6 separate regions of the Homo sapiens genome follow, and all the other regions are linked to region 3. The links come from fine-mapping of genetic effects on gene expression. A gene starts in region 3. Each other region holds a variant in brackets. All regions are shown on one strand. Distances are between the middles of the regions.

Evidence for each region. PIP is the estimated chance that this variant, and not a neighbour inherited with it, causes the effect.
Region 1: its variant is the best candidate, but not a certain one, in a credible set for the expression of NEB in blood mononuclear cells (TOPMed, PIP 0.82).
Region 2: its variant is the best candidate, but not a certain one, in a credible set for the expression of NEB in prefrontal cortex (ROSMAP, PIP 0.81).
Region 4: its variant is the best candidate, but not a certain one, in a credible set for the expression of NEB in adrenal gland (GTEx, PIP 0.74).
Region 5: its variant is the best candidate, but not a certain one, in a credible set for the expression of NEB in whole blood (TOPMed, PIP 0.55).
Region 6: its variant is the best candidate, but not a certain one, in a credible set for the expression of NEB in prefrontal cortex (ROSMAP, PIP 0.51).

What each region holds. Positions count from the first base shown.
Region 1 is chr2:151,755,801-151,759,893 of GRCh38, forward strand. No RefSeq gene overlaps it. Among named protein-coding and RNA genes, the nearest start is that of NEB, 23 kb to the left of the region's middle. The variant T/C (reference allele first, on the strand shown) is at 1,590.
Region 2 is chr2:151,696,177-151,700,269 of GRCh38, forward strand. It overlaps NEB (nebulin), which reads right to left. Exons shown (of 182, transcript NM_001164508.2): 14 at 1,368-1,472; 15 at 1,174-1,281; 16 at 972-1,076; 17 at 461-559. Among named protein-coding and RNA genes, the nearest start is that of NEB, 36 kb to the right of the region's middle. The variant C/G (reference allele first, on the strand shown) is at 1,672.
Region 3 is chr2:151,732,365-151,736,457 of GRCh38, forward strand. NEB (nebulin) reads right to left here and starts at 2,112. Exons shown (of 182, transcript NM_001164508.2): 1 at 2,034-2,112; 2 at 1,348-1,431; 3 at 757-821. The coding sequence starts at 792.
Region 4 is chr2:151,623,477-151,627,569 of GRCh38, forward strand. NEB (nebulin) reads right to left here. Exons shown (of 182, transcript NM_001164508.2): 69 at 4,047-4,093; 70 at 3,526-3,729; 71 at 2,058-2,162. Among named protein-coding and RNA genes, the nearest start is that of NEB, 110 kb to the right of the region's middle. The variant A/G (reference allele first, on the strand shown) is at 1,987.
Region 5 is chr2:151,776,193-151,780,285 of GRCh38, forward strand. No RefSeq gene overlaps it. Among named protein-coding and RNA genes, the nearest start is that of NEB, 44 kb to the left of the region's middle. The variant A/C (reference allele first, on the strand shown) is at 1,628.
Region 6 is chr2:151,794,526-151,798,618 of GRCh38, forward strand. No RefSeq gene overlaps it. Among named protein-coding and RNA genes, the nearest start is that of ARL5A, 32 kb to the right of the region's middle. The variant G/A (reference allele first, on the strand shown) is at 1,605.

The sequences.
Region 1 (4,093 bases), 23 kb after region 3:
TATCAGTAGAGAAAGGACTAGAGCTCTCTATCAAGTGATGAATTAATCAGAAGACTGCCATCTGCAAACCATGAAGAGAGCTCTCACCAGACTCTAAATCTGCCAGCACCTTGATCTTGGACTTCCCAGCCTTCTGAACTATGAGAAATACATTTCTGTTGTTCAAGCCTCTCAGTCTATCGTATCTTGGTATAGCAGCTCAAACTGACTAATAGTATTCTAAAAGACTATCCAAGGTATGGTATTTTTTAGTGAGAAAAATGAGATAATAAACTAGTAATGTGCTAATCTCAAGTGAATATCCAAAACAAACCCAGGACCTGATTAGCAGTTTGGAACTGACTTCTACTTCCTGGAATAAGAAAAATAGTCCCACATGTAAGGAAGATTAAAATGCACTATTTCCACAGGCTAAATACCTGACATCCTTAGAATACCAAAAGGAATCCTCCTCCCCATCCCAGCTTAACTCACCTTAGTGGCTTTCTCTTTCTCTAGTTGCACAAAATGAGAATGAACACAGGGTCACAAGGCCCATTGTTGCTTTGCCATAGCCACTTAAAGGTTCAGACCAGGAGCCCTAACAGAGACCATTATTGGCATTTAGCTAGAGGTAACCCCAGATGGTGTTTATGTACAGTCTTCCCCTGGACCTTTGAATATATTCCCACCATTTATAAAGCTAGCACCTGCATCTCTGTGCCTGCGGCTCTTTCCCCAGGACTCAGGGAAGCAAGCTGCAGACCAGAAGTGCTAAGGAATTAACACACCTCACCTGTCACCAAATATAGCACTCAATCATGACTCTCAAGAGTTATTGTATTAATACCCCAGCAGCCTCCCACCTTGGTTGGGATCATTTTGAGCTTTGCACTTACCCCAGTTTTCCTGTGGCTTTGTGACTCCACCTTCTCTTCCCTGTACAACATGCCTTTCTTTTCTGGAGTTGCCTGCACTTCTTAATTTCATTTAAATCCTCTTGGCATCTGAATCTGAAACAACTCACACTAAGACTCATTAAATCCAATGGCTATATCACAACATGAGCAAGGGAAGCGCTCACAAACAGATACACTGCAAAGGCACTGGTTATTTAAAAAGTCTTATCTCTACCACACTCAGGCCCTCAAGAGGCCACTTGAACAGGCAGGACACAGTCTCATATTACTGACTGTCCATGCCATTTAGCCCACCTAACATGCTTTCCTCCATCTTCTCAGCCCATCTGCATCTAATTCCTTCCTAGAAGCTACATTGAAACCTAACCACGCTGTTCTCTAGGATAGTGGTTCCTGATAATGTTCCTGGTCTGAACCATTAGGTGGCCATGGCAAAGCAGCAATGGGCCTTGTGACTTTGCATTCACTCCCATTTTGTGCAACTAGATAAAGAGAAAGCCAATAAAGTGAGTTGAGGTGGGGTGGAGAAATAGAGATTGCTGAGCCCCTACCCAAAAGAGGGGCCCACAAATTTGCATTTTTTTAACAAGTTCCCAGGTGATCCTAATGCTGCTGGTTCTGGGACCACACCTGTGAGGATACAAGAGGAAGATGGCTGTCTTCGAACTATGAAGAGAGCCCTCACCCACT[T/C]TTGGGTAGGGGCCCAGCAATCTCTATTTTCACAAGCCCACCAAGTGATTCTGATGTTAAAACAAAAAAAGCTTGAGAACCGCTGCTCTATGAAGTATTTCCTGTCAGCTCCAACCCCAGCTCCCCATTATCTTCCACATTCATTCAGTCAACTCTCAGCACTACCTCCTACCTCTCCTCGTGCTAGCCTCTTTTCTTCTCCTCCATTGCTAGTGCTTTAATTCAGACCAATCAATATTTCTCACCTGAATTATCAATACAGCCTCCCTACTCGTCTCCCTGAATCCAGGCCTCCAACTATTCTCCATCAGCTGCTAGAGTTACCTGTCTAGAAAGCCAATGTGTTAAGTTCCTCAAGTGTTTCAAGAAGTGCCTGAATAACTCCATCACAAGTAAATTCTGCAGGGTTTTTGAGGTCCCTCCAGTGGCCCTGCTTAAACAAGCAATGGGCTTGTGAAAAACAGCCCTTTACAGCAATATCAGAGCTCAGAGGGGACCATAGCTGAAAGCAATTCAGGCTGCAGCAGTGAAGGGTGAAGGGGGGCAGAGCTAAAGACAGATTTTTCTCATCTTTCACAGTATTCCCCAGGGCAGTTCTTACCCTCCAGGCTTAGTCAGCCCACCTGGCTTCTGCATCTACCATCCCTGGCTCTAGGATTTCTCATGTTCCTGAACTCTTCGAAATGAACTCCTTTGTAAACTAGACATAAATATTTGCCTTGTCTACTACATGGCACTGGTCCAGGCTCACATGAGAAAACATTTCCCACAGGCTTTGAAAGGTTTGGCATAAGGCAAAAGTAAGGTATTGTTGTTAAAAAAAAAATGTAATAATTATACTAGCCAACATTCAGAGAGCACTATTTTTTTTTTTGCCAGACCCTTATCTAAGAGATTAACAAGCCTATTTTTTTTTTTTTTTTTTTTTTTTTTTTGAGATGGAGTCTCTCTCTGTCACCCAGGCTGGAGTGCAGTGGTGTGATCTTGGCTCACTGCAACCTCTGCCTCCCGGCTTCAAGAGTTTCTCCTGCCTCAGCCTCCGGAGTAGCTGGGATTACAGGCATGTGCCACCATACCCAGTTAAATTTTGTATTTTTAGTAGAGATGAGGTTTCACCATGTTGGCCAGGCTGGTCTTGAACTCCCAACCTCAACTGATCCACCCGCCTTAGCCTCCCAAAGTGCTGGGATTACAGGCGTGAGTCACTGTACCCAGCCTCAACAAGCCTAATTTTATTTACTTCTCTTAACATCTCATGAGTAAGATATTATGATAATTCTACCTCTCTACATAAGAAAACTGAGGCACACAGATGTGGAAAAAACTGGCCCCAGGTTACACAACTTGCGAGTGATGGTACTGGGATTTAAACTCAGGTAGTGTCACTCAGAGTCCAAACTCCTTGCCCCTGTGTGCTGCTCCCTCACAGGCATGTCTGTGACTGTGTGTACTTGAAGGGCCTGACATGTCCTTGAGCAGGCCAATCAAGCTCTCTGTGCCGGGATCAGTCTGTTGCTCTATTGTCCATCCATCCATCCACCCATCATCCTCCATAGGTCATCATCCATCCATCCACTCATCATCCTCCACAGGGCAAGTATGGTCTGAATGTTTATGCCCCACTAAATTCACGTGCTGAAACATAATACCCAGTGTAAGGATATTTGGGCTGGGTGTGGTGGCTTATGCCTTTAATCCCAGCACTTTGGGAGACCGAGGTGGGAGAATCACTTGAGGCCAGGAGTTTGAGACCATCCTGGTCAATGCAGTGAGGCTTCATCTCTATTAAAAAAAAATTTTTTTTTAAAGGATATTTGGAGATGGGCCTTTGGGGGTTGATTAGGTCATGAGGCTTTCATGAGTGGGGTTACTGCTATTTATAAAAGAGGATTGAGGGAGTTCACTTGTCCTGTCTGCCATGTGAGGTCACATTGAAAAGATGGCTATCTCTGAACCAAGAAGACTCTGAACTAGGGCCCTCAGCAGACACCAAATCTGCCAGCACCTGGATCTTGGAACTCCCAGCCCCCAGAACTGTAAGCAATAAATGTTTGTTGTTTTTAAACCACCCAGTCTATGATATTTTGTCATAGCATTCCCAAACAGAGCAGGACAGGGCCAGAGTGATGAAAATTCCTGTTGCTGGGGTCAGAGCACCTGAGAGTGGGTTGCCAGGGTCTGCAAAGATACTAACAGTGTTGGATGGGCATGGTGGCTCATGTCTGTAATCACAGCACTTTGGGAGGCCAAGACAGGAGGACCACTTGAGACCAAGAGTTCAAGACCAGCCTTGGCAACATGGGGAGACCCTATCTTTACAAAAAAAAAAAATTAGCTGGGCATGGTGGTGTGTACCTGTGGTCCTAGCTACTTGGGAAGCTGAGGTGGGAGGATCACTTGAGCCTGGGAGGTCAAGGATTCAGTGAGCCGTGATTGTGCCACTGCACTCCAGCCTGGGTGACAGAGTGAGACCTTGTCTTAAAAAAATAAAATAAAATAAAAAA
Region 2 (4,093 bases), 36 kb before region 3:
AGATTCCAATTTCCAGAAACTTACTAGGGAGAGAGAAATTCATGTACTGAATACCTGCTGTTGGCCAGGGTATGTGCAGTGCATATTTCTTCCTTCACTTACTCTTCAAAACAGCCACAAATTATAAAATGGAAATATCAGGCAGAGGGGGGTTAAATCTTTGGCCACCCAGACATCAATGACAGAGCTAACATTTGAATGCGGTTTTGTTTGACTCTAGAACTCATGTTCTTTCCATTGCTTTAAGCTACATTTGTTTCCTTCACAGAATTGTTTCACTGTAAATTTTATCCACCCAAGAAAATGCAGAAATATATTTTTATACAAATGTATACTGTTTAAACTTGCTAATACTTACTTAGCCTTTTGAATAAACTTGATAAGTCATTGGATTTTATGTATAGAGTTATGAAATGTTATCCCTCATAATTGGGTGTCCTGAGTAGTTAGAGGAACTTACGTCACTCAGTTGTTTGGAATTGACTTGGGCTTGTAGCAGAACAGGAGAGTCTGTAACTTGGGTGAATTTTGTCTTATCTGGATGGACTTTGTAGGTGTGCTGTGGGGAAGCAAAGGCATTTGGTTTAGTAGTATCACCTGTCAGATCCAAGGTGGCCCACAGGCCAAGCAAATAGAACCTCATGCCCCACAAAGCAATGAAACTTGTAGTTAATAAAATATATTTTTTTCTAACTAGACTGTAGTTTGAGAGGTGCTCTTATATCTGTATGAGAAACTTTCCTATATCTTCGGGTTTCCAATAACTCTTCTTTGGGAAAATGAGCTAGAATTACCTCTTAAAATGTAGGGATGTCAACAAGGGAAAATAGGATGTTTACTACAAAATAGACTTCATTTCTTGCGATTGCCTGGCTTACATTTATTTGTAAAAGTGGCAACATTTTAAACATATCCTGACCACTAGATGCTATGGAAGGCAGTCACATTCAAAGTTCAGACTACAGACTTACGTCTTTACACTGATCTAGTTTCTTAATTGCTTCATATTCTTGAGTTATGGTCTGAGGGAAGAAGCCTTTGCCTCTGTCTTCTTCGTATTCTGCTTTGTAGTTTTTCTATGAGGAGAAGAAATTAGGCATAAGATGCAGCCATTGTATTCATGCCCTGAGAAAAATGTTATTTGGAAAGTCAAACAATTGTCTTAGAACTTACATCACTGTTTTGAGCTGTGACTTTCATGCAGTGTGAATGGTATGGATCCTCGAAGCTGCCTACATAATGTCCCAAAATATCTTTTAAGTAGGAATCTTTATATTTTTTCTGCAAGACAAAACATACTTCATTTATTAATTGGTGAAATAATGGGTTCTTTTTTTAACAGAAAGAGTGACAGTAGGATTGCTTACATCACTACTGAAGTTCTGCAGAACAGTATCGAGCTTGAATTTGGGGGTCTCGCAGTAATTTATGCTCTTTGCTTTTGTCTTTTCATAGTTTTCCTTGTATAGTTTCTGTCAAAGAAAAAAAATTCAGTTAAAGTAGATTCCTGTCACTCCCACGCTGATTATAACACTTACATTTTCTAACACTAAACAAAAGATGAAGAAAAGATATCGCCTGTCAACTGTCTTAAAAACTGACAATTGAGGCCAGGTGCGGCGGCTCACGCCTGTAATCCCAGCACTTTAGGAGGCCGAGGCGGGCGGATCA[C/G]GAGGTCAGGAGTTTGAGACAAGCCTAGCCAACAAAGTGAAACCCTCTCTCTACTAAAAATACAAAAAGTTACCTGGGCATGGTGGCGGGTGCCTGTAATCCCAGCTACTTGGGAGGCTGAGGCAGGAGAATTGCTTGAACCCGGGAGGCGGAGGTTGCAGTGAGCCGAGATGGCGCCATTGCACTCCAGCCCGGGCGACAATGCGAGACTCCGTCTCAAAACAAAACAAAACAAAACAAAACAAAACAAAAAGAAAAAAACCTGACAATCGAACACGGAATGTCATGAATTATAAGACTGTTCTGTTAGCAATTATTATAAGGCCTAAGTTTCATACATTCCAAACTCAAAAAAATTTTTTTTCTTTCTTTTTTTTGTAACAGCTTTATTGAGATTTAATGCATATACCACACAATTCACCAATTTAAAGTATACAATTCAATGGATTTTAGTATGTTTACAGAGTTGTGCAACTGTCACCACAATCAATTTTAAAACATTTCATCATCTCAAAAAAGCAAAACAAAAACACACCAAAAACTCTGTAGTTGCCAAGGCCTGGAAAGAAGGGAGAATAGGTATGAGGTTTATGGTTGGGGGGATTAAAAAAAATTCTGGAATGAGATGGTATTATTTGTGCAACATTGTAAATGTAATTAATGCCACTGAATTATACACTTTGAAATGGTTAAACTGAATCATGAAATGTGATCTTTTCTTTCTGATTTCTCTCTTAGCATGTTTTCAAGCTTCATCCTTGTTGTACCCTGTATCAGTACTTCATTAATTTTTTTTTTTTTTTTTTTTGAGATGGAGTCTCCCTCTGTTGCCCAGGCTGGAGTGCAGTGGCACAAACTCGGCTCACTGCAAGCTCTGCCTCCTGGGTTCATGCCATTCTCCTGCCTCAGCCTCCCGAGTAGCTGGGACTACAGGTGCCTGCCACCATGCCCGGCTAATTTTTTTGTATTTTTAGTAGAGACAGGGTTTCACTGTGTTAGCCAGGATGGTCTCCATCTCTTTTTTTTTTTTTTTAATTATACTTTAAGTTTTAGGGTACATGTGCACATTGTGCAGGTTAGTTACATATGTATACATGTGCCATGCTGGTGCGCTGCACCCACTAACTCGTCATCTAGCATTAGGTATATCTCCCAATGCTATCCCTCCCCCCTCCCCACCACAGTCCCCAGAGTGTGATATTCCCCTTCCTGTGTCCATGTGATCTCATTGTTCAGTTCCCACCTATGAGTGAGAATATGCGGTGTTTGGTTTTTTGTTCTTGCGATAGTTTACTGAGAATGATGATTTCCAGTTTCATCCATGTCCCTACAAAGGACATGAACTCATCATTTTTTATGGCTGCATAGTATTCCATGGTGTATATGTGCCACATTTTCTTAATCCAGTCTATCATTGTTGGACATTTGGGTTGGTTCCAAGTCTTTGCTATTGTGAATAATGCCGCAATAAACATACGTGTGCATGTGTCTTTATAGCAGCATGATTTATAGTCCTTTGGGTATATACCCAGTAATGGGATGGCTGGGTCAAATGGTATTTCTACTTCTAGATCCCTGAGGAATCGCCACACTGACTTCCACAATGGTTGAACTAGTTTACAGTCCCACCAACAGTGTAAAAGTGTTCCTATTTCTCCACATCCTCTCCAGCACCTGTTGTTTCCTGACTTTTTAATGATTGCCATTCTAACTGGTGTGAGATGGTATCTCATTGTGGTTTTGATTTGCATTTCTCTGATGGCCAGTGATGATGAGCATTTTTTCATGTGTTTTTTGGCTGCATAAATGTCTTCTTTTGAGAAGTGTCTGTTCATGTCCTTCGCCCACTTTTTGATGGGGTTGTTTGTTTTTTTCTTGTAAATTTGTTTGAGTTCATTGTAGATTCTGGATATTAGCCCTTTGTCAGATGAGTAGGTTGCGAAAATTTTCTCCCATTTTGTAGGTTGCCTGTTCACTCTGATGGTAGTTTCTCTTGCTGTGCAGAAGCTCTTTAGTTTAATTAGATCCGATTTGTCAATTTTGGCTTTTGTTGCCATTGCTTTTGGTGTTTTAGACAGGAAGTCCTTGCCCATGCCTATGTCCTGAATGGTAATGCCTAGGTTTTCTTCTAGGGTTTTTATGGTTTTAGGTCTAACGTTTAAGTCTTTAATCCATCTTGAATTGATTTTTGTATAAGGTGTAAGGAAGGGATCCAGTTTCAGCTTTCTACATATGGCTAGCCAGTTTTCCCAGCACCATTTATTAAATAGGGAATCCTTTCCCCATTGCTTGTTTTTCTCAGGTTTGTCAAAGATCAGATAGTTGTAGATATGCGGCGTTATTTCTGAGGGCTCTGTTCTGTTCCATTGATCTATATCTCTGTTTTGGTACCAGTACCATGCTGTTTTGGTTACTGTAGCCT
Region 3 (4,093 bases):
AAATAAATATAAAATAAATGATTAACAGCTTTGTAAAATGTGTTAGATGTCCACTAATAATTGGAAGGAAAATTTTCAAGATACCCACTATAGTCTTTGTTCTTATTCAAAATTCAAAAGCAAAAGCTAGTCTTGTTGACTTGGGTAAATATAATGAAGTTGGTAGGAAGGTGTGGCTCCAACAATCGCTGTGACCTTCATGCCTTTATTTATATTTGCTTGTATGTGTGTGTCTGTGCACATGTGTATGTATTATGTATAAAGTCTCACATCTGCATATAATTTCATACATATGATTATTCTGAATATCTAACCCATGTTACCCTATAGATGATTAGCTAGTTGAAGCAAAGAATAAGGAGTAGATCTTTTCTTCTATTGCTATACAGATACTAAGAGACAGAGTTCCATTTTCAGAACTTTCTCTTCGTCTCTGTCCCTTTGAACATCGGGGTTGGGAAGTGGGGAAGAAAGCAGTTTTAGAAGACGAATTAAAACCTGCCTTTACTCCAACTTGGTTTTTTGAGAGCTTAAAGAAAAGCAAAAGTGGGAAACAGTGATATTTCCTGTCAATTCTAAATCCCACATAATTATAGTGAAACTGAACATAAAATATTCCTTTCTTATGCTTTAAATGATGACTCTTTGTGAAGTTATAATAGACAATGTATTTTTCGAATGATTAATTCACCTACACAGCTTTGATTGTCACTACATAAAATAGTTTGCTGTCAGTGTTTTTTTTTTAAATCTTACCTCCACCACCTCCTCATAGTCTTCGTCATCTGCCATTTTTCCAGAGTAGTAGTGGCACCTACAAACTTTTCATATTCCATACAAATGAAAACATATTAGAGTCTATTCCCAGCACAGAAATTATCTTATGACATTATAAAAATAGAATTTGAAGCTAAACTATTGTACAAATTCATATATTGTTGCAGGCTAAAGGAGAGAAGACATTTAAAATACAAGTATAAACAGCAGAAGCTTCAAATTTCTTTCTCTTTATTCCTTCAGTGTTGGGAATTGCTACTTCTACATAATCAGTTTAGTTAAAATTGTAAAACGAAATTGAGGTAAGGAAGTGAGAGAGTTTGGACTCAGGGAACAGAGAATTTAAACTTCCAAACACTTAGAGAAAAGACATTTTCCAGCAAAAATTTTAGTGAAAGGTCAGCTTGGGTTTCAGAAGAAGCTGAAATTTATCCCCCAGCACCAAAATTCTAAGAGGGCTGACTTAGTTTTCCATACTGCCCTGATCCACTGTTTGCAATATATCTTAGGCTTCAAATTGGAACCCATAAAAATACATCTGTCAATAAATTTTAAAAGAAAAAAAGAAACCTCAAGGCAATGGGGTTATTTTCTTCCCGAACACCATTGGCTTATACAGACTTTTTCTTTCGTTTCTGTAGCTCTCGTTCAAACCTGAAAAATAACAAAGTTGTAAAGCATTGATTGAGGTACATATAGGATTGTCAGTCCTTAGCCTAAGCTTCTAATGCAGAAAACAGCGAAAGGATCTCTCAAGGCCTCTACAGTTTGACGCCAGAGAGTAAGACTCTTGATATGAAGTGGATGATGAGTTGGAACAGCTGTCCCTTCATCCAAAGATGTTTGCCATGTAAACCAATACCCTGCAGTGGCTGGTTTTGTTAAGCTAGCGAAACTGCCACTCCTCAGGCAAATGAAGCCCAGTAGAACAGGATAAATATAGGAACGTAGAGCAGCGTATCTTCTTTTTCACACTAATATATTTAGAGAAAAATATCAAAGGCAAAAAAATGTTAGACAAGAGAGCCAATTCAGTCAAGCAATAAATTGGTTAGCAAAGGACTTGACTCTAATCACACACGGTACATAGCAGATATTAGTAGGGCCTTAGTAGGGCAATGGGGTTAAACTCTCCTAGCCATATTTCTACCACTAATTTCCTCAGTTATGGCCCAAACCTTTGAAAAATACTTCGAGGGAAGTTGTGGAGCATCTCCTGAAAGAGTATTACAGAAAAAGTCATAAACTGGCCTTACCTTCAATCTACCAAATAAATTTCCTCAGCAGCAAAGCCTCTCCCAACTCTCCCCTCCTGAGAACCCCAGGCAAAAGCCAGCGTGATGCCTGGGCTCCGAATTATCATGTGGCAAGAGCAACCAATCAGATCTTGAGTTGCTCAAATTTCAGAAGCTAAATTTACCAAGTGATCTTCTGAAAACCACCTGTTCATCAATTCCACTAAAGGATAAAGGGTAACAAATTGCTTGCTTAGAACAATTCAAATGGAATCAAATTTTACCTAACTTCCAGCCTGTGCAGTTCAATTTTAGGTTGAATTTCCCATTTACTGAGGCCCCATTCAATGTCATATTCATGCAAAAGAATTTAGTAGAAAATAAGCATGACTTTGAGAGGCTTTAACCCTTCCGTGACTGCTTTCTTCATGTCATTTGTCCAGTCATGGTGGTAAATGTACTCACTCTGGTAAGGTTCACCAGGTGAGCTACAGGTAAGTTACTGGTGCTAGTGTGAAAGAAACTGAGGAATAAGACCCAGTAAACATCAAGTTGACAAAAGCAATTTTTAAAAATGTGATGAGTGAAGTTAAAGGTGAAAATATTTGACAATGGCACTAAATAAGATATCCACAGGGTGTAATTAGAAAGATTAGACCCCATCATTTTTCTGTTACTAAACCAAGAGGGTATACCAAAATCCTATTTAGCACCTTCTCCCTCCTTAGATAAGGCAAGCTGCTAGGAATACAGAACCTCTCTCATATGTAACCGAGTTAGTGATTTTTCTATTAACTCAGATGACTCCTGGCTCCCAGAAGCAACGTGTGAATGCGGACACAAACAGGCTCAATTTCTGAACAGCAAGAGCAGATAACATGGAAATCAGTAACTTATCAGGAGAAAATAATGCCCTATTTGGCAAATCCGAACGTAAGACATTTCCTTCATAAAAATTATCTAACCATTTTCTTAAAACTTGCCTGATGTCTTTCTTGCACTTTCTTTGCTCCTGAAGTATTTTTTCTAATTTAAAATCTAATTCTATCTGTCTGTCTGTCTGTCCTTACACACAGCGACAGAAATCACAGGCTCTTATGTGACAGAGAACTGCTCTTTCTCTGGGTTGCTCCTGTATTCAGGCAAAACCCTGTGAGTCACCTATATCTTGATATGGATTTGAGATTAAACATATTGTAATATTTTTTCTTTTTTAAGTTAAACATTAGAAAGTAATCTCGCTGGGCGTGGTGGCTCACGCCTGTAATCCCAACACTTTGGGAGGCCGAGGCGGGCAGATTGTCTGAGGCCAGGAGTTTGAGAAAGTAATCTCATATTTCAAATACATGTACCTTTTCCCCCTCCATGATTCACATGGTAGTAAATAAAATCTAACAGAATTTTATCATCTTAACTGATTATACCTGTTCATCTTGTATGTTCTCACAGGTCTTATGACCAAAGGATATTTATGTAATATGAGATCACTCACTTGGTAGCTGCAAACTAGAATTGTGACTTACTAGTCATTACATGCTTTAAAATGTGTTGTTGAATTAAAAAATAATACAGGCCCATACTTTAAAAACATAGAGTACAAAATTATATAAAGTAAAAAATGAGCATTGACCTTCTTAGTCATTTTTAAGTTTCAGATATTTTCAATATAGATATTGACATAAATCGATATACTTAATATGCAATAGACATTTTTATGAAACATCACATAAACATATCCTACTCTAATTTCCACAAATAATTCTATTGATTGGATAGAGTATAATAGTTTAATCATTATTAATGGACATCTAGGTTGTTTCGAGGTTTTTGCTATTACAAAATAAAGCAAAACAATGCGAAACAAAACACACAGTAAGCATCCCTGTACATTACCTTTGTATACTTATATGAAATGTATCTGTAAGGTAAATTTCTAGAAATAGAAATACTGAGGCAGAAGATATATGCACATTTTGAAAATTGATAGATATTGTCAAGTTGCCAGTCAAAATCCTTACACTATTTTATGTTTCACTAACAGAGAATGAGGGTTCCTATGTATACACATCTCAATATCCTTA
Region 4 (4,093 bases), 110 kb before region 3:
TCTCAAATTAGATTGAATTAAGGATACCGGACTAGTATCTGGATTTTAAATATGCTACAGATGCATTTAATATTTTTTAATATTTTTAATGACTTAAGACTCTTACAGGGTCACTATTATGTTTATAAAGTGGATTATTAAGATGTGTCAGTTTATAGTCTTTTCAAGATGAGATTTTATAAGAAAAAGCTAAAGTAAAAATAAGAATCAATTTAATATCTTTGAGATAAATTCCAGAGGGAATCTGTTTTTCTTCAAAATTTCTAGGAATGTTTCTTTTGAAACTGGAAGGTCAAATACTTTATTTATTACATTTTTTCTTTAGGAATAAATGTTCATATTTTAAAAATGGTATAAGTGGGAAAAAATGTGCTTCAATCATCTCATGGCTTCAGGCCAAAAAAATAGAGTTCTTTAATTCTTTCAGCATTTAAAAAAGATGCAGTGCTTCAAAGGAGAGAACACTTTTAGCTATCATCAGGGATGTATTTTAAAGCTTGTTACTTAAGAAAACTAAAATAAGTAAATGAGAATTTAAGAGGAAAAAAACAGATGTGTTTGTTTTGTTTTACATTTATGCAATGAAGGAACCACGGGCAATGGGTTGAGAAGAAATTCTAGTGGGCCATTCTGAAATGTGATCTTAGATTCCTCAGAGAATCAACATCATTATGCAATTTTATTTTTATTTATTTGTATGTATTCATGGGGGATGAGTGCAATTTTGCTACATTAATATATTGCACTGTGGTGAAGTCAAAGCCTTCAATGCATGATCATGCAATTTTAAAGAAAGTAAATCCAGCTGAAAATTTTAGAATTAAAAAATAGCCCAATATCCTTGCAGCAGTCTGAAAAAAAAATCTACTTCAGTTCCCCTAATGTAAACAAATGAGAGAGGATTAAGAGCTTCATTATAATCTGGAATAGAAACTAACTTCATCTGCCTTGGATAAAATAAACCTCCTGGGAGAAGATAATCCAACTGAGAAGCTCTGTGGCCAAGAGAAAATGGCCCATTCAAAAGTGACTGAAGCCAAGGCCAATCAAATATCTATAATCAGGCTTGTCCTTTGGTCTGTTTTATAATGCTGGAGAAAGTGAAATCATACCCTCTCCATTTTTTAAGGCTACATTATTATAGGCAAAAGTAATTATTATGGGTAAAGTAATAAATTTGGTCATCTTAAAAATTAGTACTTAAATTTTTCAGTGCTCTCAAACTGAAGACAACTCTGCCTTCCTTTTTCTCTAAAAAAAAATGAAGACACATAGACATGTTTAAAAAATTAGTATCCTTCTTGAATCAACCATATACATTTTTGACTTTGGCAAGAACAATTGAGCAAGACGCTATTTATGCAGCAGTATTTCTGGACTGCAAAGATATGCAATGACAAGTTTAGCAAGGCTGAAGATAGTTCATAAAAGAATGTATTTTATTGTTCTCAGGCAATTTGAAATGGGTGAATTTAAGAATTCTCATTTCAGTTCTTGTAAATAAAGCTCAAGTTATTTTGAGCACATTAAATACATCTAATTTTCATGGTGACTTGAGCATAAAGGAGAGACATTAAAGTTTATTAAACAAATACTTTGCACCAGGCTTCACACTGGGCATGTTAAATATTTTACCTCATTTAGTCATTCTTTAAAAATTCTTTAAGGTAAGCATTTTAATCCTATTTTACAGATGAGGTAATTGAAGAAAATAAACTTGCCGCACAAATTTTGAAGCAAGTACTAATTTGATGAATAGCAAGAATTATTTTTAATGAAAATTATGTTTTAGTCATTAATAGTTGACTTGAGATATTTTTTCCCTCCTGAAATGAAGATATTTTTGTGTCTGTCTGTCTATCTGTCTGTCTAATCTATCTACCTTTCTATCTGCCTATTTTTTAATACAATAATATGTATATTCAAGGTAGGGTAAATGGCATAAAAAGCCAACTAAGCTAACTGGCTTACATGAGGATTAATTTC[A/G]TAATTCTCACATTCCTACATCGGCAACAATCAATGTGGCCAGACCAAAGAAATAAAACAAATGATCTTACCTCACTATAATTTATTTTATTTTGTCTTGCCAACATGATTTCAGGTGTATCAGGCATAATATGGACTTGGGTCTTGTCTTTGTCCCAGGCTTCTGTGTATAAGCGCTGTGAAGGATAAAAAGGTTAATGAATTAGAAAAACAGTTTGTTGTAAACAGGAGTTTTCAATTAAGACACCATGACAAAGTTGAGAGCCAGCTTTCTTGCTGTCTGTTCCATGTATGTTAATATTCTTTTCAACCTCTTTGATTTTACAAGACATTTATTGTAACAAAATATAAATGTATACTAAGATATGAAAAGAAAAATATATATATACATATAATCAAACACACACACACATATACACACCCACGTGTGTGTGTTTGGTAACCAGGTCACTCTCACCCCAATTAAATAAAAAGCAAGTATTTCTCAAGCATATATTCACATCCATATCTGTAGTATGACTATATTAACAAATCCTTCCCATGATTTTATTTGTTTGATGCTGTTTGTTGTTAGTTTATTAGCTGCAAATGTACCTGTATGTGCTATCTCTAGATTTCTTTTTGATAAATGTTATGAAGATTTGCATCTTTCTTTTTTTTTTTTTTTATGAGACAGAGTTTCACTCTCTTGCCCAGGCTGGAATGTAGTGGTACAGTCACAGCTCACTGCAGCCTCAACCTCTCCAGGCTCAGGTGATCCTCCCACCTCAGCCTCCCAAGTACCTAAGACTAGAGGTGCGTGTCACCACACCCGGCTAACTTTTGTATTTTTTGTAGAGACAGGGTTTCAACATGCTGCCCAGGCTAATCTCAAACTGCTGAGCTCAAGTGATCTGCCCACCTCAGCCTCCCAAAAGTGTTGAGATTACAGGTGTGAGACACCATGCCCGGCTTGCATCTTTCTTGTTTGCTCTGTGCTTACCTAAATAAGTACTCAGCAAGAAAGAAACCATACCAAATCATATATAACTAACTCTTATAGACTTCAAACAATTTGAACCCATAATAGCTGTCCCATTCTTTTTTTTTTTTGAGACGGAATCTTGCTCTGTCGCCCAGGCTGGAGTGCAGTGGCGCGATCTCAGCTCACTACGAGCTCCGCCTCTCAGGTTCACACCATTCTCCTGCCTCAGCCTCTTGAGTAGCTGGGACTACAGGCGTCTGCCACCATGCCCGGCTAATTTTTTGTATTTTTAGTAGAGACAGGGTTTCACCGTGGTCTCGATCTCCTGACCTCATGATCCGCCTGCCTTGGCCTCCCAAAGAGCTGTGCCATTCTTAACTCTGGCTATTTCACAAGAGATGTCAAAGCAGAAATGCTCCCATATATTGTTATCTAACAGAATAGAGAATTCAACTGAATCACTATACATTGGATAGCAATTTAATTGGATTTAAAAAAGAGACTAACTTAATTAACAATAGGTATCTTGAATGACATATAGCCCTGTCTTATTTTCCTACAAATTGGGGGCTCACCTTGTTCATATTGAGAGCATTGTTCTTGGCCAGCACCTGCTCTAGAGAGTCAGTCACACTGGTAAATTTCAGCTTGTCCGGAGGCTGGCGGTAGATGTTATCACTCAGTATTTCAGCAGCTCTCTTGCACTTGACCACATCCATAGACCCAATGGGGACCCAGCCAATGCCTCTCAGCCACTGGAGATCAGATTTGTAAATGTTCTGGAGAGATTAAACACAAAAGCGAGTATTACTGAAGTTGTTTTAACATGATTTCAAAAATAAAAAAATAACACTAGAAAGCTTGGATAGTCAAATTTCATGTATACGTTCTTCAATATATGAAGGCCAAATTGAATACAGTCTCAGGTATTACTTTCTTTCTCTCCAAAAAAAGTAAGGGGAAGAGTTGCCTAAAAAATGAGCAGAGAGAAGAAATGTCATCCCTTCTGAAGGTTCTACCTAATGCTAGACCACTGTCTCAGTATTTCTATGAATTACTATTATGAGCACAGTTACCATGGATCTTAATTACTCACATCGCTCTGGAGGTCATAGGCCTGCCGAGCATGGATGACATCATTCT
Region 5 (4,093 bases), 44 kb after region 3:
GACTAAGACACATACCCTGCCACGACAAATCCCAGAACAGTACTGTCAGTGAAAAGAGCCAAAGTCTGTAAAATATTTGAAGAGTTTTATTTTGAGCCAAATATGAGTGACCATGGCCCACAGCACTGTCTCAAGAGGTCCTGAGAACATGTGCCCAAGGTGGTTGGGTTGCAGCTTGGTTTTATATGTCTTAGGGAGACAAAAGACATCAATCAATACATGTGAGGTATACATTGGTTAAGTCCCAAAAGGCAGGACAATTTGAAGGGTGGGGACTTACAGGTCACAGGTGGATTCAAAGATTTTCTGATTGGCTGAGAGTTAAGTTATTATCTAAAAACCTGGGATCAATAGAAAGGAGTGTCTGGGTTAAGATAAGGGGTTGTGGCTCCAAGGTTCTTACTATGCAGTGAAGCAGGCAGTTTCCAGTAGTCTATAGGTGGCAGGCCTTTCAGACCATAGATGGCAAATGTTTCCTATTCAATCCTTTAAGAGGTGCGAGACTCTCAGTTAATCTCTTCAAGACTGGGAGGACCTGGTAGAGGAAAGACCTAGTTATGTTAATGGAGATTCTTTACAGAGGCAAATTTCCCCCCCAAAAAAACAGCTTTACAGAGCTATTTCTAAATATGGTGATGAAACATATTTTTGGGGTAAAACATTTTGGTTTCCCTCTTCATCTGTCATGTGATGTTATGAGAGTCAAGTTGGAAAGTAATCCATGTTACATAGGGTTAAATAAAATCCATCTTCTGAGACTTTCTGTTTGTACTGTGTGACTTCTCTGACCCCTTAGGTAGGGATTTAGACAAGAGAGAAAAATGGTCAGAGTTTAGTCCTTGGTATGTTTTGGTGTCTGGGTCTTGCTCTGTCAGCCAGACTGGAGTGCAGTGACACAATCATGGCTCAGTGTAGCCTTGACCTCCTGGGCTCAAGTGATCCTCCCACCTCAGCCTCCCAAGTAGCTGGGACTACAGACACATACCACCATACCTGGCTAATTTTAAAATTTTTTTGTAGCAACAAGATTTTTCACTTTGTTGCCCGGGCTGGTCTTGAACTCCTGAGCTCAAGTGCTCCTTCCACCTCAGCCTCCCAAAGTGCTGGGATTACAAGAGTGAGCCACTGTGCCCAGCCTGGTTTGCACTTTGAGATGCTCTGTTGGCAGACTCCTCAGCAAAGCCTGCTGCCTGCTGTGTCTTCCCACTGGTGCAACAAGCCTGTTGCTCTTTGGGTGTCCTCTGCTCTCCTGTCTCTTTGGGGCTCTGGGAGACACAGGCTTTTGCATATTCACCTCACTCCTGGTCCAGTGTCCTTACTCATTCATCATGGGCACTTTAGGTCTTTCTGCTGTTCCAGATGTTAACAGGTGAATGAAGTCTCATAGTCACCGTATCAACCAGTGGGTACGGCAGCTTTCAGAATAAAACTTTCTTTCTCCAATTCTTTGCATTGTGCTATTATCTATCAACTGGCATATATTGAACACTAGGAGGCTCCAGACCTGCCCTGTCCAGTACAGGAGTCATTAGCTACTTTAGGCTATGGAGCACTTGCAAGGCACCTAATACAAATTGAGATGTGCTCTGAATGTAAAATACACGATGGATTTTGAAGACTTAACACA[A/C]AAAAAGTAAAATATCTCAATAATTTTTATACTGATTACATGTTGCAGTGGTAACATGTTAGATATATTGGGTAATTAAAATGTATTAGTAAAATTAACTTTATTGTTTCTTATTACGTTTGAATGTAACTACTCAACAATTTAAAATTACATATGTGGCACACATCTTACTTCTATTGGACAGCACTGCCCAGGACATGTTTATTCAAATGTCTGTTGAGTGCCTATGAGGGTTTAGTCACTAAGCCAAGTGCTAGCTGCATGATGGGGCTTATGAAGAAAATCAAAGCCTTTGCCTTCATGAAGACAGATAGTAATGTAAACACCCTGTGGGTTCTTGCCGGCTTCCCAGATAGAGCCAATTTATCAAGGCAGGGGAATTGCAATAGAGAAAGAGTTTACCACTGCACTCCAGCCTGGGTGAAAGAGTGAGACTGTCTCAAAAAAAAAAAAAAAAAAGAGAGAGTTCATTAGAGTGAATAGGCAACCTACAGAATGGGAGAAAACTTTTGCAACCTATCCATCTGACAAAGGGCTAATATCCAGAATCTACAAAGAACTTAAACAAATTTACAAGAAAAAAACAACCCCATCAAAAAGTGGGCAAAGGAAATAGACACTTCTCAAAAGAAGACATTTATGCAGCCAACAAACATATGAAAAAAAGCTCATCATCACTGGTTATTAGAGAAATGCAAATCAAAACCACAGTGAGATACTATCTCATGCCAGTTAGAATGGCGATCATTAAAAAGTCAGGAAACAACAGATGCTGGAGAGAATGCGGAGAAACAGGAACACTTTTACACTGTTGGTGGGAGTGTAAAATAATTCAACCATTGTGGAAGACAGTGTGGTGATTCTTCAAGGATCTAGAACTAGAAATGCCACTTGACTCAGCAATCCGATTACTGGGTATATACCCAACCCAGTGGATTATAAATCATTCTACTATAAAGACATGCACACGTATGTTTATTGCGGCACTATCCACAATAGCAAAGACTTGGAACCAACCCAAATGCCCATCAATGATAGAGTGGATAAAGAAAATGTGGCACATATACACCATGGAATACTATGCAGCCATAAAAAAGGATGAGTTCATGTCCTTTGCAGGGACATGGATGAAGCTGTAAACCATCATTCTCAGCAAACTAACACAGGAACAGAAAACCAAACACCACATGTTCTCACTCGTAAGTGGGAGTTGAACAATGAGAGCACATGGACACAGGGAGGGGAACACCACACATGGGGGCCTGTTGGGGGGTGGGGGGCTGGGGAGGGATAGCATTAAGAGAAATACCTAATGTAGGTGACGGGTTGATGGGTGTAGCAAACCACCATGGCACATGTATACCTATGTAACAAACCTGCATGTTCTGCACATGTACCCCAGAATCTAAAGTATAAAAAATAAAAAAAAACCTAAAAGATTCAAAGAAACTAGTTAAAAGGCAATAGCAGTCATCCAAGCCAAGTGTTGATAACTTATACTAAGGTGGTAGCAGTAGACATGCTCAGTGGGGAAGTATGTTTCACCTGTCCCCAGTCTTCCAGTTATCTGGGCTCAAATAAATACAAAGACAAGAAAATGTAAATAAATTGATAACGAGGAGAAGCTCAGCTCTCTCTCTACTGTTTCCAAGGAGCTCCAGAGAGGAACTTACATTTTCCCGGTGATCTCGCTCACCCTCGCTCCTGTTCCTTGCTCTAAACTCTGTACTTGATTCTCTGTTCAGCTTGCTCTGAATGTGACCTTCCCGTGCTAATACAAGTCTAGGCGGTGCTAATACAAGTCTAAGGAAGTAGTAAAGCTTCACTGAAGACTAGGGAAAAGGTAACAAAAAACCAGAGTGTGAAAGAGAAAACAACCTTTACTTCATCATCCAACAAGCCTGTTGGCAAAGATCACTTTGGCCATTTCCTCCTCTCTCCTTTTCCTCCAGTTCCAGGGTCCAAACTCCTTTTCTTGAGTTTCAAAGAGAAAATGTAAAAGTCTCCCACCTTCTTACTCAGAGCCAGTTAGTGTTACTGCCCTCTTTCTCTTGACCTTACATCCAGACGCAGCTGGGGCTTTGCCTTCTAGAAGTACATGGCCCCAAAACAGAAGGATACATTTTCCTTGGTCGAGTCCCTTTAACATGAAATCATCTGAAATTAGGTTTTTAAAGAGAATTTTCTTTTTCCCACATTGGTATGACCTCATTTAATCCTCATATGAAGTGGATGTTGTGAAGCAGAAAAGAGAAGCTAAGAGAGGTGGCAGAGTAAGTTGCTCCAAATTATATAACAAGATCAAGAGAAGATTCAAAACTGAATCCAGCTGAAACCCTGGACCCATCACCACCAGCCTACACCACCTCCCCTGCAGAGATGGGCCCAAGGGCAAGGTCATTATTATCTCCTCACAGCACCACCACCTACTCCCTCTCCCTTTTGGAAAGCCACTTTTCACCTTGA
Region 6 (4,093 bases), 62 kb after region 3:
ACCATATTGGACAGGCTGGTCTCAAACTCTTGACCTCAAGTGATCCGCCCACCTCAGCCTCTGAAAGTGCTAGGATTACAGGTGTGAGTCACCAAGCCTGGCTGTAATTTTTTAGGCCAGGTGCAGTGACTCACAACCGTAATCCCAGCACTTTGGGAGGCTGAGATGAACAGATCACTTTAGACCAGGAGTTCGAGACCAGCCTGGCCAAGATGGCAAAACTCTGTCTCTACCAAAAATACAAAAAAATTAGCCAGGCATGGTGATGCATGCCTGTAATCCCAGCTACTCGGGAGGCTGACGCAGGAGAATTGCTTGAACTTGGGAGGCGGAGGTTGCAGTGAACCAAGATCACACCATTGCACGCCAGCCTGGGTGACAGAGTGAAACTCTGTCTCAAAAAACACACCACTTTATATGCTGAAAAGATAATTATAAAAATTTAAGCAGTATACTAGGATGTGTTTTGCACACACATCTGCAAAAACATGACAAAAGATAATATATTCACTATTTAAACAGAGCTCCAGTGGTGAAATTGGTTAGCACATGATACTTATATTTACTGTTTTAAGAATTTAATTTATTCACAAGAACACCAAGATTATAATAAATGAATAAAGCAAAAGAACAATTCAGAGGGTATTAAAACAGCAAAGAAAAATAGTCTCAATAACTAAATAGGTGCAAAATATAACAATATGCTTATCTCTCTATTAAATCGGAAAGGGTTTTGTTGTTTAACATATAGTGAAAATTTGAAATAGGCACCCTCAAATCCCATCCTACCATTTAATCCAGTAGTTTCACCTGAGATTACAGCCAGAAGAAATAATTTTAAATATGAAAAAACACACTAAGTAGATGGCCATTGCAATGTTATTTGTAATAATATAGGAAATACAGTAGAATATAATTTGGGGATCTAAATATATTGGAATTGTTTCAAAAAGATTTTTTCAGTAAACATCTATTTTGGTATAGAATAACTGGCTAGAATGCAAAGTATGTAATGATGAAAATAATGGGTCACCTAGGCATCCCAACTCATGGAATCCCAAAAGGGTGGTAATCAATCATAAGGAACACATTCAAAAGGACTGTTAGAGGTTATTCTAATGTTGTGAAAATCTCATCAATTTCATGGGACAAAAGTTATTTACTAGCAAAAAGGGGATATTCCAGATATTAAAAAATGAAGAACAAGCATAAAAGATGAATAAAATGACACAGCTGTTTTTCCAAAAAAGCTGGTATACCATTTACTATTTCAGTATCTGCAGATGCTGACAACAAACTCTGGTATGTTACTTACATTCCTTGATGTAGGCCCACACAGATTTCAAATACATAAAATTTGTATATATCTGCCACTGCATGATGCTTTTAGACCATTTTTAAGGAAATAAGTGCTATTTCTACTGAAAGAATGAATGAGAAAAACATACAGTCACCTAAAAACTCTTTTGAAGTTAGGCAGAATTAAATGAGAATTGAGGTAAGTGTTACGTAAGAATTAAACGAGGCAGTATGCTGCAATCACATAGGTCAAAAAAAAAAACCTACCTATGAGAACAAAAGAGGTAGAAAAAAACAACAAAAAC[G/A]TTAGTAGTCCATTCATTCATTCGTCAACACATATAAATTGAACACCTGTTACATACCAGGCACTGTGTTCAGCACAGAGAGATATAATTGCCATCCTGGGGCTTACATTCTAGCGGAGGGGACAAACACAACATTCAAGTCAGCATGTCACTGGGGCTGACTCCTCTCTCCCTGCTTTTTTCCCTTTTTTCTTCTGTTTACTATCAACTATGCTCATGAATGTTCGCTTTAATAATATTCATTTTAAATGACTGAACTTTTCTCAGATTTTAAAAGAAATCAACTATGCAAACTGATCATTATTTGTCAGGCTCATTTCCAATTCTAACATTCAGAAATACAAGATAGAGAGCACTCTATAAATTGACCAAGTGCCAGAAAAGTTTCCTAGAGAAGATCAAGACAATCTTTCTGTCATTTGTACAATGCAGCTGTCATACCTTTTCAATTACCATGTGGATCCCAGTCTTTCCAACACTGAATCTGTATGTTTAGAGAATAAACCAGAATAAAAACACTGACAACACAGAGGTGTGAATAGTAATTATAATTAACCCTTTCTAAAAGAAAAGGTATATGTAATAGTACATAATAGAGTAACAATTGTAACTCAAGTCTTTTTTTTTCCTTTTTACTCAAAGCATAAACCAGACACAATACGTTATACCAGATTAACATGCAACTTAAAAAGAGGTTAATGTACATACTAAGCATGGAAATTCACCAGTAAAATCTCATTTGTCATTTTACCCCCACTACCTTGACATTATTCTTCCATTTCATAATCAACAAGGTTCTACTTCTGGTCACCTGATAAATGCCTTGCATTCCTGGAGCTTGACATTTCAGTCAATTATGGACACAAGAACAATGTTACAAGCATAAAGAAAAAATGCATCTACGAAACAGCTGACTGCACTGCTTTCAATGGAAAGGTCCCCACTCCAACCTGCCCACTCCCTCCCTTTTCTCAGCACAAACATAAATATCCCCCAGTCATTCATGAAGCTGTGTTGTCAAAAAGGTCCTGAAGCATTATTTCCCTAAACACCTAACACATCAGCACTGACCAAATAAAAACCACCCAAGCACTCTAAAATTCTCACTTTTTCAAACATTCCTTGTGTGTAAAATTTTCTAAGCATACAGAGAAACACAAGTTCACAAAATGATAAAAAGATAAGACAAAATTTCTGCCTCTTCTTGAATGCAAATCTTGAGTCAAAACCTTTTATTGTTTTGGAAATTCAAATACAAGAAACCTAAGGTTTTCTTATTTGCTTGTCAATATGCATAGAGCCCAATTGGCAGGGATGGAGAGGGGACGGGGGAAGGTGTTATACAAACAGACTAGGTGGAACCCATTTTTACCTAGGCTTCTCTAGGACAATATGATAAACAAGAAAGATTAGTATCTACTAGAAGAATTTGTCATATTTAAAATCAATATGATTAGTAAAATGTATTTTAAGTACAAATTAAAATGATTAGTATACATTTCTCTCATCTCTAGCAAACAAGAGAGCCCTCATTAGACATAGCTGCCTCCTCAATGCTGTATCTTGGACATTAGCCTAAAAAAATATCTTTAAAAGTGCTTTGCAGGTATCACCTCATCTCATGGAACCATAGAGGGATCTAAGAAAAGGCTACTCCAATCTAAAGGACTATTTTCAAGCAAAAATAGAGGAATTCTGTGTATCATCAATGAAAGAAGTTTAGGGGAAGGGTATAGTACATATTACAATAATTTAAAATCATACGCACATTTCACTTTCCATGCACGATGATTTTAACATGAAACAATGTAACTATACATCACTGAAAATACAATCAAGCTTTGCCCCAGAACTTACAGCCACTCTCTATAGTCAGTTAAGAAAAACCCTGGAAGAATATATGATAAATGTATTCAGATTCTATTAGTTTTATTTGTAAGCAGATTCTAAACAAAGAGGATGAATTTGGGCACATATACACATGCACAAATGAAATGGTTCAACATCTAAATGATATGACACAAAATTACCACTATGAGAATCAAGAGGCTACTCTTATGCAAGCAACAAACTTTTACTTATGATTTCAAACATACAGTTTAATTTTCTGTTAAAACTGTTTTAAAAAACAGTACTAGGGTTCAGTTTTCTAGTCTCGGCATGAACTAATGCCAGGGACCTATTTGAATTAGGAAAGAGACAAAATGGTGTGATTCGTGCTTCATTACATCATGGTTTGTTGAGGGTTAGGTGAATATCTTCCATTTCAAGACTTTTTATTTAGGCCAGGCGCGGTGGCTCACACCTGTAATCCCACCACTTTAGGAGGTTGAGGCGGGCAGATTACGAGGTCAGGAGATTGAGACCATCCTGGCTAACACGGTGAAACCCCATCTCTACTAAAAATACAAAACATTAGCCGGGCGTAGTGGCAGGCGCCTGCAGTCCCAGCTACTTGTGAGGCTGAGGCAGGACAACCGGCGTGAACC